Linked DNA regions of Homo sapiens: region 1 is linked to region 2. A link means that fine-mapping ties the variant in region 2 to the expression of a gene that starts in the linked region. Tissue or cell type: left ventricle. Region 2 holds a variant in brackets; the other region holds the start of a gene. All regions are shown on one strand. Distances are from middle to middle. Region 1 holds the start of TBL1XR1-AS1 (TBL1XR1 antisense RNA 1). Region 2 overlaps TBL1XR1 (TBL1X/Y related 1).

Region 1 (9,715 bases), 76 kb before region 2:
AGTGTATAGGCAAATGCTTCTACCTAAATTTAAGAGCACTTGACCATTTAAATAATGAAGACATACCTGCGTGTTCCAGATGTGTACACATTTGTCAAAAGAACCACTTGCCAGATACCTGCCATCAGGACTGAAAGCTACACTGTACACAGGCTCTTGGTGTTTTGTCAAGGTATGGATGCATATCCCTCGGTCTACATCCCATAACCTAACAGTAGAATCAAAGGATGCACTGAAAAAGGAAGGAAAGAAAGTTAATTTATAAGTAAGGAAATACTCCCCCAGCCTTGCTCCCACCCAACCTCCCATATTCAGCCAAATCTAATAGCCAAAATTCTTTATGAGAAGCAGACCGACTGGACTGTTAGGAAGAATATTCTGTGATCTTCAAGTCAGTGACAAGAAAATAATAAATAAATGAAATTTAGAAAGAAGAGCAAGTGTTCTAGAAATTAAAAGCTAAACAAGCGAAAAAAACAACTTAAAGGAATCTCCCAAGTCCAGGAGTAGAAAACGTAAATGTGCTCATTTACTGTATTCCTCTCTGTCTAAATAATCCCTCTTTCGCATGGTTTTGAACACCAAAGTGACCACATTTTTCCATTTATCTTTTTTTTTTCTAAAGATACTGAAGATTTTGCTATGCCTCAATTGCTTGGATTTTAATCAGTATTTGGTATCAGTCAATATTTGATTATTTCAATATAGAATATCATTATAACTTGAAACAATAATAAAACTCAGTGTTTAAAGATTCCCCTTAAGGAACCGACGTAAGTGCCCATCAGCTAACAAGTGGATAAAGAAAATGTGGTATACATACACCATGGAATACTACTTAGCCATAAAAAGAAATAAAATATTGTCCTTTGCAGTGACTTGGATAGAGCTGGAGGCCATCATGCTAAGTGAAATAACTCGGGAATGGAAAACCAAATATCATGTTCTGACTTGTAAGTGGGAGCTAAGCTATGAGGACACAAAGGTATAAGAATGATATAATGAACTTTGTGGACTGGAGGTGGGAGTGGGGAGAAGGCTGAGAAGAGAGGTGAGGAATAAAAGACTACACACTGGGTACACTACACTGCTTGCAAAACCAGTGCACAGAAATCAGCACTAAAGAATTTATTCTTGTAGCCAAAAACCACCTATACACCAAAAACTACTGAAATTGGAAAAAAAAAAAAAAAAGTTTCCACTTCATGAAATCTTCCCTAAACTTCTGTCATATCTATTGGAAGTCTGATTTGTAGAAGACTCATAAAAGGAAAAATGAAACAGAAGTATCACCTTGCTAACATAAGGTTGGCATTTGGATTATTAGTCCCTGGTCCTGTTGGACTCCATTTGATAGTATAAATTTCTTTATTATGTGCTTGCAAATCATGGACACAATTGTCTTGTTTCATACTCCATATCTAAACAAAAAAGAAAAATGTATACAATTATTTTTCCATACAATGAGTATATTTAAAATATTATTTTGACACTTAAAATATTATATGGACAGTCTAAAACATGAGTGATATAACCAGAATGATGATAGAATATTTACAAAGAAACTGAAATGCAATAGGATATATTTAATATTTACATCTCTGTTTAAAAAAAAAAGTTAGCTTTAAGCCCTTTAAAAATATTCACTATTACAAAGTTTGAAGACTGAATTAACTATAGTTGTTCTGAGATTAGTTAACGATCCTAAAATGTTGAAGGCACAGTTTTTACACTGTCCCTTAAGCAAAAGATCTACATAATAAACTGCTCTTAGAATTTTAGAATCAGGAAAATTTTACAATGGAGAACTGAAAATAAATAACCAACTTATAAATAATGAGGACTCACAGAGAACCGTAAAAAGTAGCATAGGAAATAAAGCTCAAATGAAAAGTAGGAAAAAAAAAAAGTAGAAAAAAGTAGTCAAAGTAGAGAATAAGCCTTTCCTGAGATGAAAATATGCCTGTGTGTATAGATTTCAAGTGACTATTATTTTTGAGCAAAAATTCATAGAAATCAACACGAAGAGTATTTCTGGGAAAAAAAAAATCACTCAATAAAGACATGGTAGGTCCTGCAGTTATCTCCTTAACACATACACATACAACATGCCAAACCCAAGGAGGGCCAACCAAGAAAAAAATCAGCTCAACTTTACATTTCCGTGACATAACCATTAAAAGATAATGAAGCATCAGAGTGTTTTTGGTGCCCTATGTATTTACAACCCCAAGTAAAATAAATCTGAACGACATGTTTTCAGAACTGATTTCATTAGACCTTTCTAATTCATAGAATTTGATACTGTTGGCCACTCTCAACTCTTACCTCCCTTGAAATAAGTTTCCTCTACATACTTTCTTTTTCCACTTTCTCAGTCACCTTCTCAGTTTCCTTTGGAAAGCTCATCCCTCTTGATTTGGTGATTGTTAGAGTTTCTAAGACTCACTTTTTTAGGTCCCCTCTTTTCTTACTCTGTACTACCTACACAGTTTTGTCCCTGCCCCAATTTTTTTTTTTTTTTTTTGGAGATGAAGTCTCACTCTCTTGCCCAGGCTGGAGTGCAGCACCACAATCTTGGCTCACTGCAACTCCGTCCCCCGGGTTCACGCAATTCTCCTGCCTCAGCCTCCAGAGTAGCTGGGATTATAGGCACCTGCCGCCACGCTCGGCTAAATTTGGTATATTTAGCAGAGATGGGGTTTCACCATGTTGACCAGCCTGGTCTTGAACTCCTGACCTCAAGTGAACTGCCCACGTCGGCCTCCCAAAGTGCTTTAATTATAGGCATGAGCTGTGGCAACATGGGGGCACTAGCTGTGGGTGTCTGCCTGCAGACCCTGACCCAGCAATGGATGAATAAAGTACACTAACACACAGATATCCTGTTTCGCCAGTCCAGCTGAGGGTGTCCGAGCCATTTACAGACTCCCTGGAGAGTTCTGTAAACAGTTGCGACCATGGCCCTATCCGCTAGTGAGACTCAAATTTATTCAGTAAGATTAATTCACAAAGGCTTGAGTCAACACCATTAGAGGGTAACTGACATTGTGGACTTCCCAAGTAAAAAGCACTTAAGCACCCATGGCACATCAAAGGTTAGTCTTAATATTATATGAGTAAACAAGCTAGCTAGGTAAACTACCCTGCCTTCCTTTATTACTAGTTTAATTTGTTTAACTAAAGGTAAAGGAACCAGGCCGCGTTCAGCCAGATCTATTACTGAAGTTACTTCTCAGTTTTCCAAGAAGATATGTGTCTATTTCTATAACTATCTCTAATATTTTTCCCACCAGCCTGATTGAACCCCAACAGTGAACCACCAGGCCTGGCCATGCCCAAGGATTTTAAAGACCACCTATCTGCTGAGAATTCCCAGTTTTTAATCTTGAGCTTACAGTTCTCTAAGCATCAGTCCCACCTATCTCCTCCATTCGCATGACTCAGCGTCACCTTCTCATTCCATCTGGCATTCCCTCTTCTCAGAAAACGGCCCATTACACATTATCCATCCATCCTAGTTTTTGCTTTAAAATCCTTTGTGACATTTAAACATTCTTAGGATGAAGAAAAGCTCTCTAACAATTTCTAGTTTTAACCTCTCTCCAGCTTCAACTCAATATGTGGCACAAGGCCCTCTGGACACTGCCCTTCTGTCATTTCCTCATATGTGTCACACACAGTTCCAGAAGAAGTTTTTTTCATGTTATAAGCATTAATACGTGTGCACATAAGGAAAAGCCAAAGATGAAAGCATTAAGAAGAGTATTAATACTAGCAATTTTGTAAGGGAGCCCAGACTTAAGAAGAACTGTCTAAAAACATAGCAGATACTTAAAGGAGAAAACCTCACAAGTTTCGCAAAGTTAAATTTAATCTGTTCATAGTAGCAGGAAAATCAGTTTTCCCTCATGATTTTCATATCTGTAACGGTCATCACATCTGCAGTCCTTGGTACTGCAAAGTCAAGGATAAAACTGTTTTCAGTAGAGGGTTAGCTGTTGCAGGAGAGGGCTCAAAGCTTCATTTATTTTGGAAATAAGTATTACGTTGTTCTTTATCTCCAAATGCTTTTTTCCCCAAATGAGGAATCTGGTGTGCTTAGGTGCGAGACAGCAGTTTTGCTTTTAGTCATACAACAAGAAAAACAGAGATCCATGTTGAGATGTGGATGTTGGTATGTCAACTAGGCTCGCTCACTGAGAGATTCTCTGCTATGTATCAGTTTCCCAGCAATGGTGATACATAGTCATACCACAGCAAAATCAAATTAATACAACGCAAAGAATTCCAATCAAATCCATGAATGCTACAAAGATTTTGAGTACTTATTAAGTCAAATCTTTACATATGCAAATAAACTTTAATTGCAAATAAACTTTAATTGCCTCAACATATGACTTTCTAATGGTGAAGACAATTTATAGCATGACCTTTCTTACTATTGGTGATGTCTAATTTTATCTGTCTTCTTGACTGAGTCACAGGGTACAGATATTTGGTGAGACATTATTTCCGGCTGTGTCTGAGGGTGTTCCCAGTTGAGACAGGCATTTAACTTAGCTGACTGAGAAAAGCAGACTGCCACCCTCCCCAATGGGCGGCGGGGGGGGCATCACTCAGTCCAGTGAGGCTCTAAACAGAACAAAACCGCCAAGGAAGCAAGAATTCTCTGCCTCAGCCTGACTGCTGAGTTGGTATATTGGTCTTCTGCTCTTGGACTGGGACTTACACCATTGGCACTCCTTCTCTGGCCCTGGAATGGAACCACACCTCCATCTTTCATGGGTCTCCAGCTTGTAGACAGCAGACTGTGGGACTTCTCAGCCTCTATAATCACGTGAGTCAATTTCTCACAGTAAATCTCTCATCCATCCATCCATCCATCCATCCATCCATCCATCTTCTTATTGGTTCTGTTTCTCTGGAGAGCCCTAACTAATAGGGTATCATATGTCTCATTGTATCACAAGCCATCATTTTAATATAATTTGCTACATTCAAATAGTTTTATGTATTTCAGAAAAGAAACTATAAAATTTAAAAAACAATGGTTAGCCATTTAAAATGTTGGAGTTTTCATGCAGGTACAAACACTCCATGTAAGACAGACATTCTAAATGGTCTTAAAATGGCCAGAGCAACCATACTGTGTGACACCGCCAACCCATTTCTCCCTACTAAGCAAATTACCTTTAAAGTCATGTCGTCAGAACAGGAGGCCAAGAGATTGCCAGTTGGGTCCCATTTGATAGCATTTACTTCATTCTAAAAATAATAGTAAATATTCACATTTTCATTGTATAGACTGGGTAGCTACTTGAATATTAAACATACATACTTTAAAACTATTCTGAAACATTACTTGTTAATCATGACCACTTTAATGTGGAAAAAAGGTTTCTTACCGTATGTCCTTGGAATGTTTTAATAGGTCTGTCTTGTCCTAATTTACAGACATGAATGCACATATCTGTACTACAAGAAGCAAAGGTGTTGTTGCTCTGCCAATCAACATCCAATGCTGGTGCTGCAAAGGAACAAAGGTTAGATTTGCTTTTATTCCACATGTACTAAAATCCAAGAGTTTTAGCTTTGAACCATTGTTGACTAATAAAATATACTAACAGGCACTTAAACATTTTACTTTATACTTTTTAAGATATTAAGAAAAAATTAAAATAAAAGTATCTATATACAACAATATTAACAAATTTCAATTTAGTTATTTCTAGGTGAGACAGACCCTAAGAGAAAGTACACTGGCCTAGTAACTGGGAGATGAAGGTTCCTGAGAGCTGGCTCTGTGGGTCTTGGGTTCTCTTTTATAAAATGATAAAATTAAATGTGATGATATCATGCTTTTCATTTCTAAAATCTGTGAGTGTTCAATGGACAAGAAGCCTCGGTTCTGTCACTGCATAATTAGTGGACACAAGCAAGTCACTTAACCTCTATGATATATCCTCTTTAGATAAGGGTAACATGCAAGTGTTACCCTCACACACAAGAGTGAGGATAACACACAAGTTGAGCACCCCAATCTGAAAATCCAAAATCCACAATGCTCCAAAATCTGCAACTTTTTGAATGCTAATATGATGCCACAAGTGGAAAATTCCACACATTAAATGCTTAATACAAACTTTACTTCATGCACAAAACTAGTAAAAATACTGTATAATGATGCCATCTGGCTATATTATAAGGTATATGTAAAACATAAATTAATTTCATGTTCAGACTTGGGTCCCATCCCCATGATATTGCCTTATGTATATGCAAATATTCCGAAATCAGAAAAAAAATAAAAATAAAAAATGCAACACAATCCTGGTCCCAAACACTTAGATAAGGGATACTAAACTTGTACTATCTTTATCCTTAGTACACATGGTGAAGACCAGGTGAGATCATGTGTGTGGAAGTACTCTGTCAATTACAAGAGTTAGACAAATGTTATGCTGAATAAGTATCATTCCCATTATCATCTACTCAACTAACAAATGGAATACGGCATATGATTTGCAAATAATTTTCTTCTAAGCAACTTTTGCCAAATACCTCTTAAAATCTGTTCTTGTCAAACACCTCTTAAAATCAAATGCCCCTTAAAATCAATGAATTTAAAAATCTCTGAAGCCCCAAAGCAGGCTGGCATTTAATACTTTGAGTTTAGCTCTGAAATTATTGAACATCCTTGTCTCCTGCTGCAAGGTGCAAAAGATCTCCGTAATTAGCAACACAGATTATGGTAATAATAGTGAGTAACTGGGTTAGGCAACAGAAGCATATCAAAGACTGCATTTAAAGCAGGGGTTGACAAACTATGGCACATAAGCCAAGAATGGCTTTTATAGTGCAATGGGGGAGGAGGGGATCAAAGGAAGACATACAAATGTGGAAAAATGAGATTTAAAGTTCAGTGTCCATAAATAAGAGTTTTATTGAAACCCAGACAAATGCATGAAGTTGCATATTACCTATGGCTGCTTTTTCACTACAAGGGCAGAGCTGATTAGTGGCAACTGAGATCTTATGGCCTACAATGTCTAAAATACTTTCAAGTCCTTTAGTGAAAGTTTGTCAACCCTAATTTAAAGAAAAAACTTAAAGGGGAAAAACAGGAGAGTTAAAGTTGAGCTGTGTGGCCAGGTGTGACTCAGCGCTTTGGTAGCAAAGGCAGGAGAACTGTTTGAGCCCAGGTGTTTGAGACCAGCCTGGGCAAGACAGTGGGACCTCATTTCTAAAAAATAAAAAATTAGCCAGGTGTAGTGGTCCATGCCTATAGTCCCAGCTACTTGGAAGGCTGAGGCAGGAGGACTGCTTGAGCTGGGGAGGCCGAGGCTGCAGTGAGCCGTGATTGCACCACTGCACTCCAGTCTGGGCAACAGAGTAAGACTACTATGTCTCAAAAAACAAAAACAAAAAGTTTAGCTATGTATACTAATTAGTAGAAATACAAAGCATTTAATAAAGGAGATTAGAGACGTCTGTGGAAAGGGAAAACAAAGCCACAAACTCCCTCATTGTGTATATCCAAGCATAATAGTAACTGGCTATGTTAAAAATGAAACATAAACAGGTGCTTAAGCAGTTAAACTTATCAGCCAAGAGATATGTCATGCGTAAGAACTTGTAACTATGGATAGGAGAAGTAAAAAGAATGGGAAAAGAAGATTTAAAGCATTTAGGACTCAGAAAGGAAATTTTAATCAGAACTATACTGAGATTTTTTTTTTTTAAAAGATAAAGTACAACAGGAAAGAGTGAAATTGATTTCACTGCCTGGCTAAAGACAAATCAGGTAAGCCCCAAATCTAAAAGTACTAAGTACTAAAGAACAAAGAAGCGAATTGTAGTAATATGACCAGACATTAAAATAATTAGTTTTGGGTATATTTCTACAATGAAAAACTAGGTATCAGGACACCACTTGGATAGAGTAAGCTCATAAAGGAAACAGACTGGAAAGAAAAGATTTAATGGGAACTTACTATGGAGGTTACATGAAATTTCAAATAACTATATTTTTAAAATATTTAATCCTCCCTCAATCAACCTTTTAACAAAGTGCCATATAAAATTATTAACATAAATTCACCTTTTATACAAAATTTCAAATTATGAGAATTCCCAACAAAGTAAACATAGTCAAAAATCACACCTCAGAGTTGTCAGGCTGAGTAAGTTGCAGGCTGTATTTTTATTCTAGTCATGAAGCAGCACTGCTTTAGCTGGTGTTTGCTCTTCCTGCCCATAAGCCTTTTTGCCTGTGCTGTGTCCAATTCCCAGCTGAGTGCTTCACTGCTAAGGGCTGCCAGGGACAAACTTCACAGAACTGCCTTGCTCTGCTGCTCTGTATCCAAGCTGGTGTTGTGTATGTTTTTGGGAAGGAGGGAGGGAGGAGAGATCTAAAGACCTAGCACCCTTGGTTCAATGTAAGAAAAACTTTGAGGTGCAAGCTCCCCTCTGCACCAGGCTGAGACTGGGCCTTTCTTCACCAGAATCACTTCCTTCCTTGGCTTCTTCCCTCCCCCCCATCCTGCTTCCCATATTTCTTCACTTATTTCTCCTAAGAGGTTTTCCACAATAAGTCACTTCACTCAAATGTTTGGCACAGGGCCTGCCTTTTGGAGAAACCCAACCTAAATCAACTAGTAAACAAAAATATGTGCCAACTTTATCCGCATGATGTGTGAACTCTGCCTCTACTTGTGTGTATCACCATTTCTGACAGCAATGTGGATGACTGTCCTGTTCATTTGGCAGTCAACTCTCATTCGTTCCTTACTGCACTCTGCCCTGCTAGGATGTGCAACCCAGGAGGGCTATTGTAAGTTATGTCCCGGGTTCCTGTGCCTAGTGGTTTCCAGATGGGTTCATACAATGTAAGACACTGTCAGGAGTTCAAAGTGAGGAGTCCAAAGTTAGGAGTAGTAAGAAGACAAGCACGACTGCCATCATTTCAGGCTGGGTGTCGAGCATTGCCAGGCAGCCTATCCTCTACAACCCAGTCCCCACTGGACAATCAGGTCCTGCCTTCTCCTCTAGAGTCTTAGACTTCCTTCAATTAGTCTCTTGGTTACCTCCTATTCCTTAGTTTTTCACTCTTCCCAACACCTCTGCAAATATTTCTTTGTATTAAATTCCCTTTATTGGAGTGTCTAGTTTACACGTCGTTTTCCTCCATGGAACCTAATTCAGTAACTACTGTGCACTTTCATTTTGACTGTGCACTTTCATTTTGACATTAAGTATTATCACTTAAAATACAATTCTAAAAATTTTAATTTTTTTGGTTAGTAATCTTTCTATTGTTAACAAGTGCAAAAAAATGGGGAAGGGAGGCCTGAAAAATCCAATTAGAAGACAGTTAAAGATACATTAAAGTGTTATTCACAAGGCCAAATATATGTCAGGATGTTCCAGAGGTGTTAATTTTATACAGGGCAGCCTGCAAAATGTTAGAGAGGAGGCTAAAATAAACAAAAAGTAGCATTAAAACAAACACGCTATTAGGTTCATAAAAGAAAAACAAAACCAAACTACATAACCAAATCAAGATTGTTGGGATGTAGGAAATGTTGCAACGTAGGTTGTGTGATTAACGCTTTTGTGATATGCCTGCCTCATAAAATACAGTGCTTATAGATTGATGTAATCAAAGAACACATACCTCCTTATTTTATATTTACTCTTAAAATGAGTCTTG
Region 2 (11,664 bases):
CTTAAAAGACAGTGGGGGTAAGAATGGAAAGAATAAGGCTTTCTGTTCTGTTTAAAAACTCAGCTCTTTCACATCATATCCATACAACTGTAAGCAAGCCCTCAGTGTCTTCATCTATATAGTGTATTAGACAGCTTGATAACAAGTATGAACATAGTGTTTGGCTTATTGTAAAGAAAATAAACTAGGATTTATAATCCTATTGAATGCCTAAAGGCATTTTCGCACAGAAGTAATACTAATATCAGTTAATTATAACTGCATGTATAGTTTAAAAGGGAGCAAAAAGGTTAAAAATAGTATAGTATTAAAAGAACAAAAAGAATCAACTCCCTAAGCAAAAAAATTGTTTGAATTATGAATTTCCATGAGTTTAAAAAATACTAATGGTATTTTTATTAATGCAAACAACAAAGAAACAGACAATAAAGACACTGGGCTAGCTGAGACTGGTCCTGGAAATGCGTCCTCTTTGCCAGAGCAAATAGAAGGAAGGAAGAAACAGAAAACACTGGCCATAAGTTGTGGCAATACTAGCTAATGTTCACCAAGCAGCGATGAGAAGAAATGTTATGCCCATCTTAAAAATTAACAGAAAATGAGCTTGCATTTTAGCTTTTTGATGGGATAAGGATATCTGGATACCAAAAATCACTTCTATAATAGAGATGAAAATGTTATTGTCAAACATGTTTTCTTTTCACATTTTCTAACAATCCTAAATCATAATCTAATTCACAGATAAATATGGGGAAAAAACAAGTAAATTGTATATTTGTAATTAATTTTTAAAAACAAGTTAATATATAAACAAAATTACATTTAAAATTGTCAATTTCATACCTTTTCCCAATTTTTTAATTGAACATAAACTGAATATGAAAGCAACCAAACATTCAATCAGAAACAAAGAACCTGCACACTAAATGAACTCTCTCCATTAGAAATGCATTAGTTACTCAAGAAAATACAAACTATCAAGCAAGTCCCCTTTAAGAGAATAGGAAGAAATGTAATTTAAAGCCTATGTTTACCTCCAAGACTAAACAGAAGGTTGTTTTGTTTTTGTATTTTGGGATGATTGTAAGATTTGTCCTGCAGTAGACAACAGAACTATGGGAAGAAAGAAGAGGTGGGGAAAGAAAGGAAGAAGGAAGAAAAAACAAATTGTAATTAACCTTTCTACTAGAGATTGTTAACATTAAAAGTTAGCCCTTTACATCGAGTTACTATTAATTCACCCACTGGGGACAAAACTTACTAAAATACATCAGTAAATAAAACACAGATCCCTGCTCTCTCACAGTTTAAATTCCAGCAGAATTTTGATTAATAAGTAATGTTACAATCATAAATGCTATGAAAAAAGAAAAAGTCCAAGCAGGGTAAAGGGATTCAGAAGTTGGGGGGAAGAGAGGTGAAAGAGGAACCCCTGGGTTGCAATATTAAAGTAGGATGGTCAGAGCCAGAGTTGGTTTGTATTTCAATTGAGAGACAGCAAGATACTCAGGAAGCTTCCTGTATGCTCGATGTTCTGTGTACAGACAATGATGTATGAAGACGTGCCTTATATCTTGGTGTTGTCCGCTTACTACTGGAAGGCATACCTAGAACACTTCCTTATTCACAAAATACGTCATTTATGTTTTAGTTACTCTAATTTTTTCTCTGCAGTATCGATTTGTGCCTGATGCCTCCTATATATTGTGAAGCTACAACTCCTAGGAGACCTATCAGGCATTATAATTGACATGTTGTATATGCAGGCCATGATAAAAGCTATGAAATGCTAAAGAGAAGATGTGCCAAATCAAAGAAATTCTTAACTGTAACCCAGAGTCTATTCAGTCAAAATATTTTCAGACACACATTCTTACAAAATTAACATCAAAGAACTTCAAAGTTTTTCCAAGACACATGATACAGAAAAACAGAAAAATGTCACTAAAATAGAATGTCTAATGACTTAAGCCCTTCTACAGTTTAGGCAACAATTTGTAAATATCCAGCAAAGCTTACAATGTATCTAGGGCTATACACCCACCATTACGAATTTAAAATACCTGACTAGGGAAAAATAACAAAACACAAACCAGAACTTCTTTGCTTAAGAACACCTGGTCTTGGTTTTGTGGTTTTTTTTTCCCTACTGTGTTCACTATTCTTCAGCAGAAGACAAAGAGGAGGCAAAGGATAAATGTCTGTGAAAATGCATAAAGCTAGAACTATGAAGACACTAAGCTGAATTTTTTCAATACCTTCTATTGTAAATGCACAGGAATAAATGACAGTATGTCTGTGACTTATGCCTACTATTGTACCTAAAACACAATTCTAGATATGAATAAGAATTAAATGAGATGAGAGGAAGGAGTGGTCAGAACTTAATGAGAACGGGGGGGATATTTTGGGAAGCAGATAAGTGTGAGAACAAAAATCTTACCTCCTCTTCATGAGAGAAAAGAAGCCGGAAATTGTCTAAGGAATACTTCTTCTAGATAGGGTCCAGAAGAGGAAAATATCTTTCAAACAAAGAGGAAAAAAATGTGTTGTGTATGATTTTCACCCCCTTGATCTCACGTCAAGCAAATCAACAGTTGAAAGGAACTGCTCTAACAACTCAGACTCAACTAGACAAATTCACAAAACCTAAGTAGGCCACACCTGGCATGTGTTTACAGAGAAAGCTACAGGACAGGACAGGCTAGCAGGGCAGTATCACGCCAGGCACACAACAGGAGGACATGCAATCCAGGAGCTATTGTCTTTGCACCTCTCCCTACTATCATCACCATCACCATATCATTATTCAGGTAGGTATGCAAAGGGCAAAGAATCCACAAACGATACAAAAGTTACCCTGGGTTAGACACACCTGAGTTCCACTGAGAAACCACTATGATTGATTTTTTTTTTTTTTTTTTAAAGACAGAGCCTTTCTCTGTTGCCCAGACTGGAGTGCAGTGGCGCTATCTCGGCTCACTGCAACCTCTGCCTCCTGGGTTCAAGCGATTCACCTGCCTCAGCCTCCCGAGTAGCTGGGACTACAGGTGCATGCCACCATGCCAGGCTAATTTGGGTATTTTTAGTAGAGACAAAATAGCTGGGAGGATCGGTTGAGCCTGGGTTTCACCATGCTGGCCAGGCTGGTCTTGAACTCCTGACCTCAAGTTATTTGCCCATCTAGGCCACCCTAACTGCTGAGATTACAGGCTTCAGCCACTGCGCCAGGCCCACTATCATCTTATAAGCATCTCCTGGACATATCTTCCAGGGCACCCAATCCACGAAGGATATGCTGTTTTAAGAATGCATCACACCTTCCCAAACCAGGTGCAGTTCACGTGTCAGGAATCTCTTTGCCATACCCTATATGGTGGCTGTTAATATTGACATTTCACTTTAGATTTCAGATGAGTCAGAGCTAAACATTAAACCAAGGTCATTTATTCACAGAAAGAGAAACGGTTTAGGGAACCTTTTACAATGCACCTGGGTCCTCATCCCAACTCTGCCTGTAGGGTGCCAGTGGTCTTAGGCCTACAACTTAAGCCTCTTAAGACTCACCACCAACAAGCAATGACTGGGTTTATTGGATTGACTGCTAAGATCCTTTGAAGCCTTTTAAAAAATAAGAACTAGGCCCTGAAACGAAGAAGAAAATATCTCCTGCCTTCTAAGAAATAAGACAACAAAGATATAAAATCAAATATATATATATATATATATATATATATATATATTTTTTTTTTTTTTTTTTGTGAGGGGCTCTGACTCTGTTGCCGAGGCTGAAGTACAGTGGCACCACCTCGGCTCACTAAAACCTGCGTCTCCCGGGTTCAAGCAATTCTCCCACCTCAGCTTCCCAAGTAGCTGGGATTACAGGCGTCTGCCACTACGCTCAGCTAATTTTTGTATTTTTAGTAGAGGTGGGGTTTTGACACGTTGGCCAGGCTGGTCTAGAACTCCTAACCCCAGGTGATCCACCCACCTCAGCCTCCAAAAGTGCTGGGATTACAGGCACGAGCCACGGCCCCCGGCCTAAAGTATCATTTAAATAGCATGGAAAACTTGTTTTGATCATAGGACAGTTAAAGAAAAGCTGTCTCATTCAATCCCCTTTGTTTTATGCATACAGATTGAGATCGGAAATGGTTAAACATTCTTATCAGAGGTGATAAAATGAGTATTAAACTCTACATTGCTGGCACACTCAGTATCATTTAAATCTGACTATTTTGTACAGTACATAATATTGTCCGTTTTAAAAACAAGTAATTAGGTGCCCGGCCAAATTTCTACTTTTCAAGAAAAAGAAAAGTATGAGAACACTTTTTTGTGAAAGCCCTCAAAGACCTGCTGGGTGCGGTGGCTCACACCTGTAATCCCAACACTTTGGGAGGCTGAGGCGGGCGGATCACGAAGTCAGGAGTTCGAAACCAGCCTGGCCAACATGGTGAAACCCCGTCTCTACTAAAAATACAAAAATTAGTCGGGCGTGGTACCATGTGCCTGGAGTCGCAGCTACTCGGGAGGCTGAGGCAGGAGAATCGCTTGAATCTGAAAGGCGGAGGGAGGCAGAGGTTGCTGTGAGCAGAGATCGTGGCACTGCACTCCGATGAAGCAAGACTGTCTCAAAACACACACACACACACACACGGAATAGAATAGAGAGAACCCAAAAGTAAATCTACACATTTACAGTCAACTAATTTTTGACAAAGGTGCCAAGAACACACAGTGGGGAGAGAACAGTGTCTTCAATAAATGGTTTTGGGGAAACAGAATGAATATTCACATGTAGAAAAATGAAAGTAGACCCTTATCTTTCACCATATACAAAAATTAAACAAAAAAAATGGATTAAAGACTTAAGCATAAGACTCAAAACTAGAAAATTACTAAAAGAAAACTCAAGAGGAACACTTCCTGACAGCAATCTGGGCAAGGATTTTCTTTGGATAGGACCTCAAAAAGTACAAGCAACGAAAGCAAAAATAGACAAATGGGATTACATAAAACCAAAACCTTCTGCACAGCAAAGAAAGCAATAAACAGAGAAAAACAATAACCTACAGGAGAAAATATTTGCAAATTATGTATCTGACAAATAATATCTAAAAGAACTTAAGACAACTCAATAACAAAAAATCAAATAACCTAATATTTAAAATCGGCAAAATGGCCAGGCACAGTGGCTCATGCCTGTAATCTTAACATTTTAGAAGGTGAAGGCTGGAGAATCGCTTTAGGCCAGGAGTTTGTGACTAGCCTGGGCAACATATGGAGACCCCATCTCTATAAACAATTTAAAAATTAAATAAAAATAAATAAATGGCAAAAGACCTGAATAGACATTTCTCAAAAGACATGCAAATATCAACGGGTTTATGAAAGAATGTTCGACATCACTAATCATCAGGAAAATCAAAACCACAATGAAATATTATCTCACCCCAGTCAGTATGAACATTATCAAAAAGACAAAAGACAACAAGTGCTGCTGAGAATATGGAGAAAAGAGAATCCTTAACACACTGTTGGTGGCCATTACTGAAAATAATATGAAGGTTTCTAAAAAAAAATTTAAAACAGAAATAACCACCATATGATCCAGCAATCCCACTACTGGGTAAATGTTGGTCAAAGGATACATAATTACAGTTAGACAAAAAGAATAAACTTCAAGAGATCAATTATACAGCAATTTGACTAAAGTTAAAAATGGCATATTCTTGAAAAATGTAGAGTAGATGTTATGTGCTCTTACCACAAAATGGTAACTATGGGGTAATGCATTTATTAATTCACTAGATTCAACCATTCCTCTCTCTATATGTATACATACATCATATATATACATACACATCATATATATATACATCTCATATATATAATCATATATATATACACACATCATATATATGGATACATATATATGATATATGATATATATATGATAGGGTCTTGCTTTGTTGCCCAGGCTAGAGTACAGCAGTGTTATCATAGCTCACTGCAGCCTTGACCTCCACCTCCCCAACCCCAAGTTCAAAAGATCCTCTTGACTCAGCCTCCCAAGTAGCTGCCCAGCAAGACCAGCTAATTTTTAACTTTTTGTAGAGACGGGCCCTCACACTGTTGTCCAGGCTAGTCTTGAACTCCTGGGCTCAAGAGATCCTCCTGCCTTGGCCTCCTGAAGTGCTGGGATTACGGCATGAGCCACCACACCCAGCCAATATATGTATTTCAAAAGATTTGTGTTGCACATGACAAAAACATAATGTCGTATGTCACTTTTTTAAAATTAAAAAGAAAAAAAAAAAAGTTTGGCCAGATACGGTAGCTCACACCTCTAATCCCAGTGGTTTGGGACGCTGAGATGGGAAGATCGCTTAAGCCCAGGAGTTCGAGACAAGTCTGGGCAACACAGCAAGACCCCATCTCTATAAAAAAAATGTTAAAAATTAGCTGGGCAGGGTGGCATGCACTTGTAGTCCCAGCTACTTGGGAGGCTGAGGCAGGAGGACCCCTTGAGCCCAGGAGTTTGAGGTTGCAGTGAGCCATGATGACAGCTCTACACTCCAGCTTGGGCAACAGAGTAAGACCTTGTCACTTTGGGGAAAAAA[AT/A]AATAATAATAATAATAATGATTTTTAATTAAAGTATCACTGTAAGGAGGAGTGAGGCGGTCTACATCCATATTGTCTTACTGCCACAGTGCCATGGGCAGGATGGACTCCATACAGTAAGGATCTTGGGCCCCCACCAGAGTACAGTGTAATGCCATCAACCAGTAAGTACACTTTTTAACCATCTACCTGACCCAGCTTCCAATTACTTTTGACCTATAGTATTTCATACAACTAACTACTTCCTGCAATACTATATGGATGTAACTGTTAAAAAAACTGATGATACTTTTAAAAATCAGGAACTTCACCTGATGGAGTCAGGTCAAATTTACTTAATAACATAATCAGTATTTATAAGAGAGACTGAAATTTTAAAATACATCATTTTTCTCCTTTTGGAAGTTTACCAAAAAGTCTTGGAAGGCACAAAAACACTAGTCATTATCATAGTCATATTGTGCTGCTTACTGCTATTCACTACCCAACCCAAAAGCCTGAGGGTCACACCCCTTTGCTCTGCCTCCTTTGTCCACCACAACCGCAAAATTTGGTCAATTCTTCCCCAAATCTCTCTATGCTGCCTACTGACCCCCCTTCAATCACACTATCCGTACGCCTCATTCCACTCTTTCCCCGCAACTTTGAGGTCTACAGCCCAAATTGTTTTTAATGCATCCCAAAATTTATAATTGAACATCATTGGATATCTAAAATTTAAGCTTTTGATTTTTTTAGTTTTGAAGCAAGAAGTAGTAATGGGTTTCTTTGTTGAGGCACTGCTTAATTAACTATTCATTTAACAACTCTTCAGATGCCTTCAGCCTCCTTGCTAACATAATTCTAATTTTCTTCAAAGCAGCAACAGGCCCAGATAAATACTTGCTTTCCTAACCTTTCTTGCAGCCAGAGGCAGCCATATTGATCAGTTCTGGCTGGTAAGGCCTCAGAAGTCCGCTAGGGAAGGAATGAGGAGGCCAGGGGAAGCTTTTGCTTTAATGAAAATAAAGAACAGGTGCAGCACTTCTTCCTGCTTAAATATGATGCCTCCTGCAGCAGTAGCCATTTTCCAACCCAGGCAATAAACCTGATGGAATTCATCACACTAAGGGCAATGGAATTTTGAAAAACAGTACCTTCCTGTCTCACAATTTGTTTAAAATGGTATTTTACTTACTTGAAACCAACTAGACATCATCATTCTCCCCCCAACCCATGTCACACAATGCATTGCAAATTTTCTATGTATAAATTTAATTCATCTCCCACCCCAAACTTGTTCCTCTTCTCGTATTTCCTACCTTGGTGGATGGCGCCACTTTCACCCAACTTGTCACCCAAACTAGAGATATGGCTCCTTCTCCTCCCTCATTTCCTGTAAGTAAGCACTAAGCACCATGACCTTCTATTTCTAGGATGCAACTTGACATGTGTATGTTTTTAGTTTCCCAAACTCCTCTTACATTAGCAGACTTTGGAAATGCTGTATCCTCTGGCTAAATTTTAGATCACTCACATCCTACTAACCATTGTGGATATCCATTTTACATGCCTGTCTCCCTTCACTAGAAGGTATGTATCTTGAAAGATGCCTTATCCAGCTTTGTAACTTGAATGCCGAGAACATATGGGATAGAATAAGAACTACAATAATACTGTTACTCTACCTTCCACTGAGAATCAAACAACAAGCTGGTTATTTAACCTCTCTAAACCTCAGTTTTCTCATCAGTAAAACAAGATTGTAATGGTATCTTCTCTCAGAGGAAAGTTATGTTAACTAAATGAGATAATGCATTATCAAGCACGTAATAGTACCTGGGAAATAAAAAGCACTTAATAAATGGTAGCTGTTGCTATTTTTCCTAGATTTTCTATATGATGGGAAACACTGAACTGTCCTTTACCAGAAGTACAAGATTTGCTGAAATAAACTGTCAATCCACCCAGTCTGAAAGTCCAGAATGCTTTATTTTCTGTGCTTAGGAACATTATGCAGTTTATCTTATAAAAACAACATGACCCGGTTTCTAAACACACTGCTATTGGCATTCCGAAAATGGGGTAACGATTCTAGAATAAATACTGAATATAAATGAGAAGGGAGAAAAAAGAATTTGCAGGAGTGGGTCAAGATTATGGCTTTGAAGAAATGATGCCCATTTTTAACTAACATCACAACCAATAATCTATAGTGGGTACTGGATTAATCAAATCTCCACTATTTAAACAAACATCAGTCTAGTATTATTATTCCTGTTCCCTGTCTTCCAAATAGTAGCTGCGAAGCAATGAAACTATTGCCTAGAATAGCAACACTGAATTCCTGGGAAAGATATTTTCAGCAACAGCAAATAATGGGTAAATTTAATAAGGCTTCCATTAAAGCCTGCTCCATAATTACACAGTATTTTAAAATAGTACCTTTATTTTGGTATTGAAAGTCATGCAGATTGCTGAATTATCTGCACAGTCTAAAATTTCCCTTTTAGATATGACATCAAAATAATGTTAAAACAGTCATAGAAAATACCAGTTTCCCATTCAGCGTAGTTCCTTATAGGCAGCATAAGCTCTCGGGTCTCCCAGATTGTTTGCTACACAGGGAAATCTAATGTGCTCTATAAATTCTATTAATATGCATCTTTTCTAGTGCAGTAATGAAAATGTTAACACTTTGATTCAGTCTTGACTTCAAATTCCACTAGTACAGTGACTAATCTTCTAATTTGAAAGAATTCAACAAATCTTACTTAGAGCTTTAATAAACTCTACTTCTATGCCACTGATTGGGAGAAATATAAAGTAAAACTGGCGATTTCTTTCCAAGGGCAAAGAAGCAGTATTAAAGAGCAGAATGGGTTCAATGGGAAGGAAAAAAGGTGAATGTCAACCAATAACCACTGAACATTCTGACCCCCTCAATTTGCTATTTTTATACTATGCAAGGTAGTAAGAAATCAGAAACCAGGAGTCTATCGTAGGTAGTAAGAAATCAGAAACCAGGAATCTAGGGCCAATGGCCATTTATAAATCTTTTATAGGTAGTATACGAATTGTGACTTTCTTTCTTTACCTCACCTACCATTTTATCCACTCTTCTCAGCCAGAGACTCAGGACATATTAGTAGAAAGCTCAAGCAATGACTACCCACATTCTAAGAAACTAGTTCTATTCCATGCGAATATAGAAGTTCCAGATCCCAGAGTCTGTTATTTCAAAATCACTCGATCTTTTCAAAGTCTCTAAAGAGTTCTTGAACATTCATTCATTCATTAACTCATTTAAGAGCCTATTTAAGGACAAGCACTGTGAACAAACAACTATACGTCTTTCATGCCCTCATCGCTGAGTAGCTTTAACATTGAGCCTAATGACTCAAAATGACCTAATGAGGCCCTTTTCTCATCAAAGCTAAAAGTGTGACCACGGTATTTTTATCCAAAGGCATGACTAGATTCCTGAAAACTTAAAATGCAGCTTCTTATACTCACCCTTTCACTGATCAAAACAAAGCCCACAACGGAAGGAAGAAGAAAGGAAATAAAAAGACAGACATTAGGAAGACTTTAAAGAGAATCCATTTGTGAATTCCCTTCTTTATGAGGCTTAGTTGCATGTAATGCTGTCAAATATCATAGTTCTTCATTCATTTAATAACTAGTTACTGAATGTGTACTATTTGCCATGCTTCATTTCAGATGCTAAGAACAACAGTCAAGAAACCACCCTGAAGTTTGTATTTTAATGGGGGAGTAGAGACAAAATGAATACATTATAATATATGGCAAGTGTCGTATTTTGTCAGTTTCTCAAACTGAACTTTTATAAAATCAAGAGATACGATTTAGCATTGTAACCATTCAGGCATATTGCCTGCAAACCAGACAGCAACTCCACATAATAACTCAAGAAAAATGGGACCTATAGAAAGTATAAGCTCATAAAAACAAAGAAAAACCTGGATAATCAGGTTTTTTTTGTTTTTTGTTTTTGAGACGGAGTTTCACTCTTGTACCCCAGGCTGGAGTGCAGTGGCATGATCTCGGTTCACTGTAACCTCCGCCTCCTACGTTCAAGCACTTCTCCTGCCTCAGCATCACGGGTAGCTGGGATTACAGGCACCTGCCACCACACCCGGCTACTATTTGTATTTTTAGTAGAGATGGGGTTTCACCATGTTGGCCGGGCTGGTCTCCAAACTCCTGACCTCAGGTGATCCACCCACCTCAGCCTCCCAAAGTGCTGGGATTACAGGCGTGAGCCACCGCACCTGGCTGATAATCAGGTTTTAAAAGAAAAGAAACCACAGCAGTTCCACGGGTGAAGAATATTTACACCCTACCCAATTTGATCCTGGAACCTTTTCCACAACTTGTCATAAAATATGGTCCCATCTCTTTTATTTTTCCAATCGATGGCTGGATTCCTATATAATTAGGGCTTCTTTTGATTTTGTTTAGATAAGTAAATAGACATGAATGGTTAGGGGAAGGGGTGTTTTGAATCCTGAGGCAGAGAAACCTACATAGAATGGTTATTCATATACTGTCTTTGTTTCTTAACTGTCCCGCAACAGAAATTGTTGAAATTTGCTGAACAAACAGTGACCATTCACTACATTGTGATACACTGCTGGTCCAGATCCCAGTCTAGGCAACAACACCAATTACCAATTTTGCAGATTATTTTAGATTATACTTCTGTGACCATTTAATGTTCCTCCATGATCAACTGGCATACTTGCGTGGCTAGAAGCTCCAGAATCAACCACACGACACGAAGAAACATTCCAAAGAATCCTTGGTCCTGTGTATTGAATTAGTGCTCTATACCAACCTCACCCATTTTCTACATGGTCATTTTATTGTAATGCAACCACTGCCCTTGGTATTAGTTACTTCAAATTTCAGGGAGAAAGAGTTGGGATATCCTCCTTTTTGCTAACAGAAAGCCCTTGGGGACTCGCTCATCTAAAAATACTGCGTAAGGTGAATCTAGTTATACTCCAGCAGGTGTCTCACCAACCTTTATTT

Evidence for each region. PIP is the estimated chance that this variant, and not a neighbour inherited with it, causes the effect.
Region 1: TBL1XR1-AS1 starts here. The variant in region 2 is the best candidate, but not a certain one, in a credible set for the expression of TBL1XR1-AS1 in left ventricle (GTEx, PIP 0.57).

What each region holds. Positions count from the first base shown.
Region 1 is chr3:177,032,905-177,042,619 of GRCh38, forward strand. It overlaps TBL1XR1-AS1 (TBL1XR1 antisense RNA 1), which reads left to right and starts at 4,501. Exons shown (of 4, transcript NR_174966.1): 1 at 4,501-4,840; 2 at 5,458-5,546. TBL1XR1 (TBL1X/Y related 1) reads right to left here. Exons shown (of 16, transcript NM_024665.7): 11 at 5,409-5,530; 12 at 5,194-5,268; 13 at 1,294-1,421; 14 at 67-232. RefSeq lists enhancers at 4,476-5,675, 7,017-7,311 and a silencer at 8,722-8,966.
Region 2 is chr3:177,108,366-177,120,029 of GRCh38, forward strand. The region is part of intron 1 of TBL1XR1 (TBL1X/Y related 1); the gene reads right to left. Among named protein-coding and RNA genes, the nearest start is that of TBL1XR1-AS1, 77 kb to the left of the region's middle. The variant AT/A (reference allele first, on the strand shown) is at 6,627.